2 separate regions of the Homo sapiens genome follow, and region 1 is linked to region 2. A link means that fine-mapping ties the variant in region 2 to the expression of a gene that starts in the linked region. Tissue or cell type: whole blood. Region 2 holds a variant in brackets; the other region holds the start of a gene. All regions are shown on one strand. Distances are from middle to middle.

The links. PIP is the estimated chance that this variant, and not a neighbour inherited with it, causes the effect.
Region 1: it holds the start of SLAMF6, and the variant in region 2 is fine-mapped to the expression of SLAMF6 in whole blood (TOPMed, PIP 0.90).

What each region holds. Positions count from the first base shown.
Region 1 is chr1:160,521,830-160,524,518 of GRCh38, forward strand. SLAMF6 (SLAM family member 6) reads right to left here and starts at 1,426. Exons shown (of 8, transcript NM_001184714.2): 1 at 1,315-1,426. The coding sequence starts at 1,363. RefSeq lists an enhancer at 1,211-1,260.
Region 2 is chr1:160,485,346-160,488,034 of GRCh38, forward strand. SLAMF6 (SLAM family member 6) reads right to left here. Exons shown (of 8, transcript NM_001184714.2): 7 at 1,759-1,830; 8 at 1-1,409. The coding sequence ends at 1,362. Among named protein-coding and RNA genes, the nearest start is that of SLAMF6, 37 kb to the right of the region's middle. The variant G/C (reference allele first, on the strand shown) is at 1,577.

The DNA of each region.
Region 1 (2,689 bases), 36 kb after region 2:
ATTTCACTGCCGTCTTTACCATATTTCATCTCTCCCTTTCCTTCTTGATTTATTTCTTCCTACCCAATACACTATTTTACTTGTTTATCTTTTTTTACAGTTTGTCTCCTGCTAAAATGTTAACTCCATGAGGGCAGGAATTTTTGCTTGCTTTGTTCATGATGTATTCATGCAAACTAGAAGAGTGCCAAGCATTCAGTAGGTGCTCAATGAATATTTATTCCTTTCTCATTCCAATTACCAATTACTCTACTTAACTCCATATTGATGGGATCTCTTGCTTCAGTCTCTTCTTTCTCTTATGCTGCTGCCACACTTGTTGAACTGTTATTTTTTCTCATAACTATTACAAGAGCTTGTCGCATGCTGGCTAATGAAATTTGGGCAAATTATTTAAATTAAGTTCACCTCAGTTCTTCATTTTAAAATGGAGATATTAATAGTATAAATTCATAGAATTCTCATGAGACTCATAACGTGTGTACAGCACCTGGCACAATACTTGAAATACAATAAGTGCTCAGTGAATGCTTCCTACTTTTATCTGCTACCCTGGGCTAGCTCTGGACTAGATTTCCATTGGTCTCCTGGACTATCTCTGCCTGAATGCTACACTTTGTCTCCCGTGGACCACTTGTAGTTCCCCAAATGTGATATGAATCTTCATCTTCTCCATATAATGGACAGCAGGAAACAAGAAGCCAGCTGGATCAGTTCATTCTTTTCTCACTGCCATATATAATGCATTGCTGGACTAGCTAGCCCTAATTTGCACTAAAGGAGGGGAGAGATGGAAACCTTTTTTTTTGCAATGAGCAAAAGGTGAGAGGGTTATTTTTGGTGTGTTTGGTTGGGCCCAGAAAATTTGGCTCAACTGAATAATAGGTTTTTAATAATTTAGATGAGGATAGTGAGGTTCAGGAAGGATAAGTAACCTCCCTGAGGTTCACAGTACGATAGTAGATACATTGGTATGAGGGCCCATTTTCTTGGTCTTGGTACTCTTTATAACACAAGATGCTGGTCATAAACCACAAACAGTCTTGTCTTCAAAAGCTTATTTCCTCTGCCCCAGCAAATAACTTTCTTACATGCAGACACAATTGAAATTGTTCACCGACAACCATCTCAGGCTTATCGCATCCAAAGTTGAGAGGAGGTAGTAGTATATCAGGTAACACTGCCAGCGTCCCCTTTCCCGCCCCAATCCCTTGGCAGAGAGCCAGACAACTGTATACAGACGATTTAGGTTGAGCAAGCTGCACAAAACCAGGGAGTCACTCAGTGACTACACCGATCTGGATTGACATTTACCTGGGCCAAAGCAGAAGACAAACAGGAGCGATTGGAACAGCCACAACATGCTTTCCGCGGTGAAGACTGGTGCTTGAGACCTTGAGGCAGTCAATGTTTTTGCCCTTCTGTCATAAACTGAAAATACTTCTGAGACTTCCCCTTCCTCTTAGAGGCGTGGTGACAACTTCTTCCCCTGCACTAAAAATCCTAATTTGTAACTGTGTTAATTTTTTGTTTACTTTTTTCTGAGCTAAGTGCACAAATTTTTTTTTTTTTTGGAAAAGAAGATAAAGTCCTTTATTGCATCTTTCATAAACTTATATGTAAAAGTCTGTAAGGAATTTCCTAAAATCTACTAGAACAAATAAATGAGTTCAGCAAGGTGAAAAGATACAAAATCAAAATATAAAATTCAATTGCAATTGTATATACTAGCTATGAGTAATCCAAAAATAAAATTCAAAAAACAATTCCACTCTAATTACATTAGAAAAAAATATTTAAGTATAAAGCTAAGAAAAAGCCAAAAGAAAACTGATTTTTTAAAATTATACTTTAAGTTCTAGGGTACATGTGCACAATGTGCAGGTTTGTTACATATGTATACATATGCCATGTTGGTGTGCTGCACCTATTAACTTGTCATCTACATTAGATATTTCTCCTAATGCTATCCCTCCCCTTGCCCCCCACCCCGTGACATACCCCAGTGTATGATGTTCCCCTACCTGTGTCCATGTGTTCTCATTGTTCAGTTCCCACCTATGAGTGAGAACATGCGTTGTTTGGCTTTCTGTTCTTGTGTTAGTTTGCTGAGAATGATGGTTTCCAGCTTCATCCATGTCCCTGCAAAGGACATGAACTCATCCTTTTTTATGGCTGCATGGTATTCCATGGTATATATATGCCACATTTTCTTTATCCAGTGTATCATTGATGGGCATTTGGGTTGGTTCCAAGTCTTTGCTATTGTGAACAGTGCTGCAATAAACATAAGTGTGCATGTGTCTTTATAGCAGCATGATTTATAATCCTTTGGGTATATAACCAGTAATGGGATTGCTGGGTCAAATGGTATTTCTAGTTCTAGATCCTTGAGGAATCGCCACACTGTATTCCACAATGGTTGAACTAGTTTACACTCCCACCAACAGTGTGAAAACATTCCCATTTCTCTACATCCTCTCCAGCATCTGTTGTTTCCTGATTTTTTAATGATTGCCATTCTAACTGGCATGAGATGGTATCTCATTGTAGTTTTGATTTGCATTTCTCTAATGACCAGTGATGATGAGCTTTTTTCATATGTTTCTTGGCCGCATAAATGTCTTCTTTTGAGAAGTGTCTTCATATCCTTTGCCCACTTTTTGTTGGGGTTTTTTTTTTTTTCTTG
Region 2 (2,689 bases):
CCAGCCTAGAAGATTCATTTTAGAAAGAGTGGTCTGGGAAGGTTTCTCTTAGGAGGTGACATATTTAAAATTAAACCTAAAGAATAGGAGGACCCCAGCAGGCAGAGGAAGGGCCTGCAGGAAGATGTAAATAATTAACATAAAGAACTTTTCCTTTAATAGAGGAGCTGAAAGAAGATCAGGGAGGCTACATAGAGAGTGTCAGAAGGGTAATGCTAGCTGAGGCTGGAGGTGGGCCAGACCATCCAGGGCCATGGAAACTGGATTTCTTTCTGAGTGCATTGGGAAACCTGCAGGGTTTTAAGCAGGAAACTGAAGGATCCAATTTATATTAAAAACATTACTCTGGCCATCTTGTGGAGAGTGGGTTGGAGAGGGACAAGAACAAAAGTGAGGACAACTGTTCTGATCTTAAGGTAGGATTCAGGTTAGAGGTGGTGATGGTTGGATACAGGATGGTGGTCAAGGAGTTGGAGGAGAAGTGGAAGGTCCAAGAAATATTTCTGAGGTAGAGTCCAAAGGGCCTGGTGACAAAGACACTGGAGTCAGGGATGACTTAGATTCTTGGCTCAAACAATGGAGCTGATGTAATACCATCCTCTTCCTTTTTCAGTCTGGGAGACTAAGGCTCCAAAAGGTTAGGCAGTATGTCCCAGGAGATGTGTCTAATAAACATTGTACAAGTTGAGCATCCCAAATCCAAAAATCCAATATCCAAAATGCTCCAAAATCTGAGATTTTGAGCACTGCATCGACATCAATGAAACTCAAGGGAAATGCTTATTGGAGCATTTTGAATTTTGGATTTTTGGATTTGGATACTCAACCGCTAAATATAATGCAAATATTCCAAAATCTGAAAAAAAATTGAAATCTGAAACATTTCTAATCCCAAGCATTTCAGACAAGGGATGCTCAACTTGTATCAGGATGGGCCCATCCAACTCCAGAGACTACACATGTAACCAACACACTGCATTATTTCTCAATAAGTCAATCCTGCTGCTTTCTAAAAGGAGAGAAGTGGTTGTCTTCTGGATCATAAACTCTCTGTCAACCATAATTCCATTTGCTTAGTTATCAAAGAGAGAGTCAATGTGCTGGTGTGTTATCTTTAGCATGTTTTGGCCTGAAGTGGATTGGAAAATATTATTTGAACCACATGCTGGAAATGATGTTATCCTTAGGTGTTTGACTCAGGTAGGCAGGTTTAAGTCCGAAGGACTGGAGGTGATCATCCTATCCTAGATATTCAAATTCTGTTGCCAGGAACAACAGGAACCAAGCTTCCTGTTCTTTGTTCTGTCTCATGGGATCAGAAGACGTGTCATTCCCGAATTCCTCTGAGGCCTTTCAGCAACTTACACGACATTGTCAAGGGCAGTTGCCCTGGAAAAAGTGGGTTTACTCTGTGGGAAAAAGAGGAAGATGAGGTAGGTTAATTGGAACTGGAACCTCAGCCCACCCCTCATAACTACAGAGAGAGGACTGGAGACTACAGAGAGGCAGATAATAGAGATATTGATAGCATAGGGCAGGATTAAATTTAAAAACATGTAATTGAAAACTCAGTTAT[G/C]CATGGTGATCCTAATACAAAATAACTTCTTGATTATGTTTTGGTGATGTCCTGAGACTTTCCGCATGCTGCTGCTGTTTGTGCATCTGTAAAATGACCCTTTTATTTTTACTTTATTTGAAAAATCATAGGTCTGTGGAGAGAGGTAAGAATATAAAAACATGGAGCAATCGTGGGCTTACCTCTTTGGAATGATTAATTGTGGAGTAAATTGTGATAGTATCATTTTCTCTAGGTGTCCAGATTTCTGTTTCCTGTAAAAAGAATCATACCAATTTGGCTTACACAGAGACAAAGAGATTAATGCATAGATATATTCTTAGGAAAGACTGTGTGACAAAAAAGAGAATATGTCAAAGTTCTTCCAGAGGAAGGCTGGGGAATGTTCAGTGGAAGACCAAGCACGACTAGCTATCAAACTTGTGAGGATTTAGTGGCATTTCCTGAGCCCCAAACAGAACAGCAACACTGCAGCAAACCAATGGGCTCAAGAGCCAGAGAAAGGCAGCCTTGCTGTATGAAGGGAAGGAAGTATTCTTGTCCTTTGTCCAGCTCTACTTTCCTTCCTCCATTTTTAAGAAAAAACTTATATACCAGATAGTTTATTATATGTTTTGTCTCAAATTTTTACTAGCTATGACTGAAACTACCCATTTTGCCTGCTCCATCTTTTGCTATAATTCTAACTGCCTTGTCATCATGTCATTGGGGTCTTCTCAAGCATGGGGAATTGGTAGAATAGGAACACTTGGCCTTAAGAATGGCTCTGCCTGGAATGCACATTACAGAAATAATAGCAGAAGTCCCTACGGCCCTCAAAGAACCTACTCAAAGATTTTGACACTTTAAATTAATGAAGAAGTATTTAGAGAATTATCAAGATCTCTACTGGGCACAGTGGCTCATGCCTGTAAACCCAACACTTTGGGAGGACGAGGCAGGCGGATCACTTGAGCGCAGAAGTTTGAGACCAGCCTGGGCAACATGGTGAAACCCCGTCTCTACAAAAAGTAGAAAAATTATCCTGATGTGATGGTGCTCGCCTGTAGTCGCAGCTACTTGGGAGGCCAAGGTAAAAGGATCACCTGAGCATGAGGAGGTTGAGGCTGCAGT